Regions from separate parts of the Homo sapiens genome. Here region 1 is linked to region 2. Evidence: fine-mapped expression QTL. A gene starts in region 2. The other region holds a variant in brackets. All regions are shown on one strand. Distances are from middle to middle.

What was found. PIP is the estimated chance that this variant, and not a neighbour inherited with it, causes the effect. A credible set is the group of variants that fine-mapping cannot tell apart.
Region 1: its variant is the best candidate, but not a certain one, in a credible set for the expression of TIGD2 in thyroid (GTEx, PIP 0.64).

The regions. Positions count from the first base shown.
Region 1 is chr4:89,165,173-89,170,564 of GRCh38, reverse strand. No RefSeq gene overlaps it. Among named protein-coding and RNA genes, the nearest start is that of TIGD2, 56 kb to the right of the region's middle. The variant C/T (reference allele first, on the strand shown) is at 2,272.
Region 2 is chr4:89,108,267-89,113,657 of GRCh38, reverse strand. TIGD2 (tigger transposable element derived 2) reads right to left here and starts at 2,125. Exons shown (of 2, transcript NM_145715.3): 1 at 1,775-2,125; 2 at 1-1,591. The coding sequence starts at 683. RefSeq lists a silencer at 1,868-2,317 and enhancers at 2,398-2,477, 2,508-2,617.

The DNA of each region.
Region 1 (5,392 bases), 57 kb before region 2:
ATGCAAAATAAACAGTGAATAATCTCCCTCCCATCCTTGCCCTTATCCACTCAATTTACCTCCTCTGTAAATAGTTTACTTACACGTTGAGTATCTCTTGTCTGAAATGCTTGGGACCAGAAGTGTTTCAGATTTTGGTCTCTATTTTGAGATTTGGGATGCTCAATCCGTATATGCTTTCAAAATTTCTTTATACATAAGCAAGAAAATACAAATATATATTCTTATTTCCCCCTTTTATACAAAAGATAGTATGCAATGCATTGTGTTCTGCACCTTACCTTAGAGATCTTTTCCACATTCAAATGGCCTGAGTATTCTTCTTTGAAGCTTATGTATAATGTTGCATTATATAAGTTACTATAATTTATTTAACCAGTGTTCTGTTGATGGGCATTTAGGTTATTCCCCATCTTTTGCTTTTACAAACATTCTGCAATGAATAATCTTGCATATGTCTTTTGGAGCATGTTCAAATGTAGGTGAATGACATATTACTAGATGTACAATCTCTGGATCAAAGGATTACATTTGTAGTTTAGATGCAATCACCAAGTTGCCCTCCATGGTGCCTGTAACAATGTACACATTGTGTTATCAAACATTCAGATATGTAACAATCTAATAAATGGGAAAATGGTATCAGTTTGGTTTAACTTGCACACCTTTTATGAGTGAATGAAGTTAAGTATATTTCTATATGCTCACAAGCTGCTTGCTAGTGGGGCACAGTGGTGTGTGCCTGTAGTCCCAGCTACTTGGGAGGCTGAGGTAGGAGAATCTCTTTAAATCTTTTGTCCATTTTTCTGTTGGATTTTTTGTTGTCTTTTTCTTATCTATTTCTAGTTTTGTATATGATAGGAAAATTAACCCTATCTCTAATATGAATTATATATGTTCTTATTTCTTTGAATATTTGGCTTTTGGTTCTGCTTAGGATATTTTGCCGTATGTTTATTTCTATGTAGTTAAGTTTCTGAATTTTTTATTTTATTCTATGTTATAAATAATAGAAAGACTCTTCCTCCAAGACAGCAAAATAATTTTTTCAAATATAGGCACATTTAGTTATATAATAATATATTATTGGTAAAATTATGTACCAGATAACATAAAAGATAAATTTGGGTGTATACCAATACGGAAACAGTTTCCACAGTAAAAACATTAGTATAGTATGTAATATGTATTAAGTAAAATAATGTTCCCAATTTTCCTTCTTTTCAAAATTCAGTTTTCTTCATAATTCAGTATAATGTGAGTAATGTAGTATATATAAATATAAAAGAGAAAACTTTGTGCATAATAACATTCAACAAAAATTTAATAGTTTAGTAATTTATGGTATGGAATAAGAGTGATGTCACCGAAACAAATGTCCTGAGATTCAATTATCACATTTCATAAAAAATAAAATTCAAAAATAAAAAACAATGATAAAGTTATTTAGCACATCATCCTCCCTTTCATCAGATTGGAGTTATTTGCTTCTTTTTAATTTTAGACTTTCTGGTTACATGCATTTTAACAGATTATTACCTTTTAAAGTTATTATTATTATTTTACATGGGCTAGAACTGTTCAAGACAATAGAGAGCATACCTCTCTAGAAGCTACCTATTGGAGTTAGAATTTGCTAACTCCAATAGGTAGCTTGCTAATGTTTGTTTTCTTTGCAAATCTTACACACTCAGAATAGAAGAGCATTGTAGTTTAAATGAATCAAATGTAAAGAGAGGCCCGCCAACTGATTGACAAGACTTATGAGCATTTGAGACATACATACATGGGTCCAGCAGCCCTGGTGTTCACTGCCAGGGACTCTGTATCAGTAAGTGAATCCATTCTCACCGGTCAGTACCCATGCCATACTTGATATTTTGAATATTTCTTCTGCTCACAGGGGAAGAAAGTACTTCGGTAGCCATGGGTCTAGGATGTGGCTTCAGTTTTAAGGATCAAAAACTCAATTTCTCCAGCTCATTAATAGTGAACTCTAGGAAATGGATTTTTTGGTATATAAACTTGCTAGATGTTTATTGTTACTCTAGAAATTAAAATTGTCTATTTACTATAATAATCATACTTACCAAGAAGCCTGGCACAAAGTGATGCAGTCACATTGGAAAAGAGTTTAGCAGTTCCTCAAAAAATTAAACATGAAATTATCCTATGATCCAAGAATTCACTCCTAGGTATATGTCAGAAATAATTAAAATGTATGTAAGTACACACCACAAAACCTGTACACAATTGTTCATCGTATCATTA[C/T]TTATAATAGCCAAGAGTGGAAAGAACCCAAATGTCCACTGAATGCATCCATAAAGTATGATATAGCCATACAATGAAATATTATTCAGCAACAAAAAGGAATGAAGTACCAATACCTCCTACAGCATGGATGAACTTTGAATACGTTATGCCAAGTGAAAGAGGCCAATTCCAAAAATCCACATAATGTATGATTGCATTTATATGAATGGTCCATGGCAGGCAAATCTATAGAGACTGAAAGTACTGAGTGGTTGCCAGAGGCTGGGGGAAAGATGAATGGGGAGCGATTACTAATAGATAGTGGTGGTGGTTGCACAACTCTGTGAATATCTAAAACCATGGTAGTATGCACTTCTAAAGCATGAATTTTATGGTATTTAATTAATCTGAACCTATTATATAAATATATATTATATATATATAAAATATATATATGAAATAAGACTATTCTCAGTACCAGTTTCTGAAATATTATTAATGGTTCTTCTTTTGGTTCATATTGTCAACTCAGTAATTTATATAAGAAAAAGAATTATTTCCTAAACTAGATAAATTTGGAATTCCCATTAGGCATAGTTCTCCCTAAATTTAGCAGCAGCAGCAATAAGAACATTATGTTATAGGAGAATCCGAAGTTAAACGTGAAGCATGTTCCTGCCTACACTGTATTTGCATTCTGGTCCAAAGGTAATGAGACCTTTTTCATTGACTCAAATATCCTACATTTCTTATCTCTACTTTAAAACTTCAGATTAGATTAATCCAATAGCAATAATAGTAAAATAAAATAGAGGAAAAAAGAATATAAATTAAATGTAAGGAGAAAAAAAAAGCCAAGGCAAATGCAAGAGTTGGACTCATCACTCAAGTAGCAAAAAGGGAGTTATGCTGCCTTCAAGGTCACATGTTTCAGGTCTCTCTTTCTCTAAAACATAAAACTTGTTACAGAGAATTTTCTCACATTCCATAGTGTATTAGTAAAAAGGTGCATCTAGAATCCAAGTTTCCTGACCCCTAGTCCATTGTTTTTTCTGCCCACAGTCATTTATCCTTTCACATTCTCTGTTTTCTCATGTATAACATGAGGATAAAAAACCCTTTCCTAAGGCCTTCCAACAGGAATTAGTGAGTAACACATGCAAACACCATGGTGGCTGGCACATTGTTAGCCATTGTGTATGGCTATATCACACTTTATACATCCATTCAGTGGGTATTTGGGTTGTTTCCACTCTTGGCTATTATGAATAATGCTACTATGAACAATTGCATACAGGTTTTTTGGTGTGTACATACATACATTTTAGTTATGTAAGACATATACCTATGATTGTATACAATCTACAATAAATATCTGTTGGATGAATAATCAAATGAAGGAGTAAATAAATAAATGTTTTGTTTTCTTCCCTTTCCCTTGGGTGTCAGCTCAAATTTCCTTCCTCCCCAGTATCAAATAAAGAAGATACAGGAAAACGTCTTCCTAGATAGGAAGAAAAATTAGGCTTTGCTTATTCTTTTTTCCCAAATATATTAAGTGATTTGTCTAACGTCCCATAGTTATCAAGTGGTTAAGGAAGATTTTACCTGATTTCAATACCATTAAGTTTACCCCATTAAACTATCGTACCTTTCAAGAGGTAGCTATCTTAACATATGAGAAGTTTAAATTGTGTCCCTTTTTAGTCAAAGACTAGATATTTTGTACATCATAGACATTTGAGAGCTGGAATTGTTTATATTGTAAATTTGAGCTGGAAAGAAATCAGTGAATCTTGAGCACATCTTGTGCACCCATTTCTGTGTAGAGGATGTAACTGAAAAAGCATTAATGCTGAAACTTAGCTTCTCCAGCACCTCAACCAATGTACTTGAACACAATGTGTATCTTGTTTTTCCAACCCAATTTGGGTTTCTCAAATTCTAAAAGTAGAAAGTTTACCCGATTAATATGACCACTCAATGTAGTGCAGAGAGATAGGCTTTGGGAATTACCCAAGATTGGTTCTGAAATATAACCCCCATCACTTATCAAATGTGTAATAGGAAAAGCCACCTAACCTGTTTGAGGGATATTCCTGTCTCATACAGTCATTGAGAGGATTAAATGATAAAATATATGTGAAAAATTTAGCAAGGTCCTGGCACATTCTAGGCACCCATAAATTATTAACCCCCTTTCTTATGGCTTCTGTTGAGTGTAAGACAAATATAGCATTTTAACCATTTGCGTTTGTTTGCCTCTTTCAGTGTTTTTAAGGCTTTCTCCTATATGTGAGCATATTGTAGCTTGTCTTACTGAGAGTTCGAGTAGTCTTCCTCTTTGATAGTTGGAACTATAACTCGCATTGAGACAGAAGGTCTATGAAGATGAGGACTATGGCTTTTTTCCTCTCAAAGACATGGTAGTGCTTATATCTCTAACAGGTGACAATTATCTGAATGTTTCTATTTTTTTCCTCTGCAAACCTCATTTTGGTAGTAGCTGCTATGAATGCCACGTTAAGAAGGGTTTTGCAGTCATTGGAAAGAGTTTTGTGGTTCAATGTCACCACGGCGCAAAGTTAAATAATGGCATCCATGCCACAAATTAGCCATGGACCCCTGAGGGAAGGGAGTTATGCCAAATTAATCTTTGAAGCCCTGACCTTGTACCAATACCTAATGTAGGTCTTTATATGTAGAAGGTCTTCATTCTGTATTTCTTGACTGTTCTTGACTGTATTAATAAATAAATGTACAGATGAAATAATCTGTGCCTGAAAGTGATGAATAGCCAGAAAAGCTGGACAAAAGTGAAATACAGATCCTTTAAAGACATTATCTGTTAAGTGGATCGGCAAAGATCAAGAGAATAAAGAGGAGAGACTGTCTATGAAATTTTATTTAAAATTTGGTAGATAAAGTATTCCCTCGTTTAGTTACACAGGAACACAGGAGTAAATGACTCATTGTTTCATAATGCCCTTTACCCATAGCATTAATTTCTCCCACTATGATGCAGATCAGTTTTATTTGTTGCATCCATCTTCAAAAGGTTAACTCTGAGCCCACTTTTCGCTGTAATAATCCCTCCAGGATACCGCCAGGAACATCTCCTGGAACCATATGGTACTAC
Region 2 (5,391 bases):
ACAACACAAAGATTAAGTTTGTGTAAACCTGTGGCATTTGCGCAACACATAATGATGATTCTCTCTCTGCTTGACCTACACCCAGAAGTACTTTGGTCAGTTTCAAGAGTTAATGTCCTTGATGGTAGACATTTCCAAAACAATCCAGTTTGATCAGCACCATAAATTTGCTCTGGTTGTAGATTCTCTTTTTCAACAAATTCCTGAAAGCTACCACAAAATTCTCTGGCAGCAGTTTCATCTCCTTTTAATTTTGTTCCTTTACCAGCAGCCTTTGGAATACCATGGCGCTGCTTAAATCGAGTTAGCCAGCCTGACGATGCATTAAAATCACCTTCCATTCCCAAAGCATCAAAAAAGAACTTGGCTTGTTTTGCACAAATCGTTCCGGACACTGGAATCCCATCTGTTTTCTGTTGGTTAAACCACTCTATCATAACTCTATCAAGCTCCTCGTATGTTGATGACTTCATAGATTTACGTTTGGATACTCCACTGGTAGGATCTGAACTGTTTGCATAGTTTATAATCCTTTCTTTGTTCTTTTTAATATCACGAACTGTGGATTCACCAATTCCGTACACCACGGAAAGTTTTTTGAAAGAGATGCCTTCCTCAAGTTTCTTAATAATGTCAAGCTTGTCCTTAATTGTCAACACCACACGCTTACGTTTCCCCAACATTTTAAGTGTCTAATATTTTAGGTGATTACTAGAACAAGATAATTAACAACTAAGATTTGAATACAAAGCAACTAGAAAATGAGTTCGTAAGATTCCTCCTCTCACTTCTAGGGCCTAGATGGATAGTGACCAATTTCCTGACAAGGTCTACGTGAATCTACTTGCTATTTTAAAACTTACAAACTTCCTACAACAAAGCCTAGCGCCAATTAACTCTTATCTTCTATCTTTCTTCCTCCTCAGGGTTCAGGGTCTTTCATGAAGTGCAATCACACTAGAGGCTAGAAACTGTACTGGTAAGGCTTCTAAAACAGTACTATTGCATACTCAATTCTTGCCATCCTTGCAGGTAATGTTCTTTGCCAGAATAGCCACTAAATCTCAGGTGGAAGTATTTTAGGAAATGTGCTAGGGAGTAAACAGTTTAAGTCAAGAGAGGACTTGCAAACTTGACATACAGGAAAATACAATGGGAAAACTCACCCTCTGACTATGTGGTCTTTGTCAAGCAGTGGATTGTATGGAATGCTGTCTCTCTAGGCACGGACTCTGCTATAGGTTGCGCAAGTGAGTGCTTGTGGAAATCATACGCAAGAGAAGATGACCCGGACAGAAGTGAACAGTGCAAATAAGGTGAAAGTGGAACAGGCAGAAAACTCTACTTTAAAAGCGACTTAAACCTACTAGATTTGGCAGCTGGAAAGGAGGATAGTGGACATGTGATGTCACATTACTAAAGAAAGCATCAAAAAAACTGCATCGGTGGAAATGAGGACCCAAGGTAGAGGCTATGGGGTGGCAGGCTCGGTGAAGATGATGTTACAATAATCCTGGTGAAAGACGATCCTCGATGGACCAACAGAAGCAGTTCCTGTGGGGGCTGTAGAGATACTCGGAGGCTCCGAAACCTAAAGGAAAATACCAAAAACATTTTCTTTCAATTCAACATCAGGATCTGTGGCATTATCCACATTTATCCTGCAACTATGTTGAGAAAATTAACGCCTCCTATCAATGTGATAGCTAAATACGACAAATAATGCTTTCAGGCATAATCTGGGGTGACAGAGAGAGGGACCTGAAGAGCCTACCTCCTGAAATTAAGAGGTCAGGGAGAAGCCGTGTTAGCGAGGGCCTCTCCCCGCTGGGCGAGCTTCAGAGCGCGGGACGTCTTTCCTCCCGCGGAGGGAGCCCGGATTCCGCCTGGACGCCGGCGACCAGGATGTCACTGCTGCAGCCAGCCAGCCAGCGGGCGGCCGCTTGGCACAGGGAACGCCAGTCCGCCGGCCCCGGGCATCGCCCTGGGACCGCCTGCGCGGCGCCCAGACCACACTAAGCGCAAATGGAGTCTCCTGAGGCAGGCTGGCACTGGTGGCCCGGCAGCGGCGAGGGACGAGCGGAGAGGGACGAGCGTCGCCGCCGGAGCCGGAAGGCGGGGGATTAGAGAGCACGCGCGCGCCCCCGCAGAACGTTGTGCCGGCGAGGGGGCGGGGCCTGCGCGGGTGAGCGCACGCGGCCCGGGGGAGGGGACTCCGGCGAGCGGGCGGGAGGGGCGGGGGCCCGGCAGGGGTGCGTCTCTAGGCGCTGCGTGGGTTCCACTCACCGCCTGGCCGTTTCGGGGCCGCAGTGCCTCCCTGGCCGGCAGGGGGAGGCACACGCTCGCCTTGTCCTGGCGCTTTTCCCAGTGGCCCGGCTCTGCCGACGAGGCTCTTTTCTCCCTAGGGGGAAATTTTAAAATCTCACCCCCCCAGTGCTGGGGGGAAAGCGGAGGATCCTCGCGTGCCGGGAGCGGGCTGCGAATGGGGCAGGGCGAGCGCACGTGGGGCGTGTTTACAAACAGCAGCCGCGCCGCCTTGCGGAGGCGGTCCAGGTGTCGGAGCCCAGAGTCAGCGCGCGTGGAAAGTGCTAGCCCGAGCGAGGATCATGAGGCACGGTAGGAGCCGGCGGACGTGGGTTCCGGGCAGGAGCTGGGGCGTTCGCTCGGCAACACCCAGCCGGACAAGCCCAGGGTGCCGAGGCGCGGCGGGCTGCGGTAGAGCCGAGTGTCGGGTCAGCGCTCCCCGGTGCTGATGCTCCGAAACTCGTCACAGTCGCTGTAGAGACGGACCCTTTGCAAAATCGACAGCACCTGGGAGACCCTTGAGCCAGTGGGAGGCGTCGTGGTAAATTTCCTGCCGTGCCTCGACGCCCGGGGCTTCTCAAGTGGAATCGGGGAATTGCGCTTTGACTGATACTCCCTTTATTTGTTTCCAACGGAGACATCTGCGGAAGGGTCACCGCCTTCCTGGAGGAGAGAGTGGTGCACCTCCACCTTGCACCACCTGTTTCCTGGGAAACGCGGTCAGGCTGCCTTCCTTTCCGTCTTGTGTGTGCGTGTCAGTTTGAAAAATTGGAAATTCTTCAGTGAATTATCTCTTCCATATGAACATAAATGTAACCTTTTCGTTAACACAAAGTAACATAGTAATTCGTCATTTCTTTGACAAGGCCATATACTGTTTCTGGAATTTCAGAAACTTGGAGATGGAAATCAAAGCGAGCATACTGTAGAAAACAGATGTTGATTCTAAGCCTTCTGTTTGACTCCGCCGCCAAAACTGCTCAATTGCCTTTCTCAACATAGCAGCCTTCCACTATCTGGCATGACAGAAATTCTTTGATCTAGTTATGTTGTGAGGTTGTAAGTGGCTTTTGGAGAATACCTGCTTTTAGACCTCCCCTCTTCCCTGCCTTCCATTTGGCTTCCAACAAGCCAGTCCCTTTCTGGAAGTCCTGGTTGCCTGTTTTGGGTACATTATAACTTACTTCATGGTAGTTTTATATAACTTTACAAAATATTCTTATTTTCCCTGATACCTGTGAAGAGCGTGAAAGACTGCTAGAACAGCACTTTACCGACTGCCACCCATGTGGAAATGAGGCAGCCTGTAACCAGATGTCAGCCGCCTGCCTTTCCGCCTCTCCCCCGAGTCTGCTGGAGTAGCTGTGTCCCAGGATATTTAAATACAAAGGAATCCTGCCTCTTACTCTTCCTCTCTTTTCCACAGTATCTCTAGGATTTAATTTTCTTCCAGATACCATTTGCATTTTTCTCTGTTCCTCCTGGATTCTCCAGTTTGCTGTTTTATGTCTTATAGCTGTTCCCTTTTTATCACCTTGTGTAAGTTCAAATCTGGATACAGCCCACATTTCTAGATTTTCTCAAAACACCGCTTGACTCAAGGCAATTGTATTTAGTAGACTTTTACTAAGATTTTACTCAAGGCAATTGTGTCTTTACACAAAACAGTTTTATTGGGCAAACTTTCTCCTTTTGTTGGGGGAAGGGGTGGCTAGTTGTGGCAGACATATTACAGCACAAGGGGGAGAGGACTTAGAATGTTAAGAATATGTATATATACACACATATATATATAATAAGAATATATGTATGTGTATGTATGTGTATTTTTGAGACAGGGCTTCTCTCTGTTGCCCAGGCTAGAGTGCAGTGGTACGACCATGGCTTGGGCTCACTGCAGCCTCAACCACCTAGGCTCAAGCAGTCCTTCTGCCTCAGCCTCCCGAGTAGCTGAGACTGTAGGCTACAGGTGCGTGCCATCATGCCCAGGTAATTTTTGTATTTTTTGTAGAGATGAGGTCTTGCTATGTTGCCAGAGCTGATCTCAAACCCCTGGGCTCAAGTCATCCTCCCACCTTAGCCTTCCAAAGTGCTGGGATTACAGGCATGTGCCATCCTGCCTGGCCAATAATAGATTCTTAAGGTGGTGAAACTACTCTGTACAACTGTAATGGTGGGCACATGTCATTAAACATTTGTTCAGATGCACGGAATGTACAACACCAAGAGTGAACCCTAATGGAAACTATGGACTCTGTGATAAAAATGTTTCAAGGCAGGTTCATCAATTGTAACTGATGTTCCACTCTGGTGGGCAATATTGATAATAGGGAGGTTATGGATGTGTGGGGGCAGGGAGTATGTGGGAAATCTCCCTATCTTCTGTGGAATTTTAGAACCTAAAACCATTCTAAAAAATAAAGCCTATTTCTTAAAAATGTAGGTTCAAAAAAAAATGAGAATGTTGGGTGCCTAAGGCAAAGTTGCCTTACTCTTTCTCATGTACTATATGCTCAACACAGCACACACCAAGCAGTTCTCCACTGGACACAGCTGGGTATCCTATAATTCATTTCAATTCTGATACCATCTGCCTGGAGTGTCCCCCCAACTTCAAATTCCAATTCCAAGTAGTAGGTTGTTGTCAGGTTCCAAGCCCAGCTGGGGTCTGAGGGGAGTTGGTGGACGGGTGGTGGGTAGTTGAAAGGACACTTGGGGGACCATAAGCAGTTGAGATACAGCTTTATTCTCTCTCTCTCTCTCTCTCTCTCTCTCTCTCTCTCTCTCTCTCTCTCTCTCTGTGTCAGCCTTTGTTTTGGCCACCTGCTCCAACTGCGGCCTCTCAGCGCTGGCTCCACCGCTCCTGCCACCCCCACGCCTGTAGCTGAGTTCCCCATTGTGCTTGCCGCTTCCTGACTCCCCTCCCAGCCACCTGCAAGGTGGCCCAGCTCTCTCTTACAGAGTCAGCAGTCCAGTTATATTGCTCACAGACAATAGTGGCTCAAAGCCAGTTGATGAGCCCACCCATAATGTGGTTACATAACTGTGATTATGTAATGCACAGGATTGTGCACCTGCGCTCCAGTC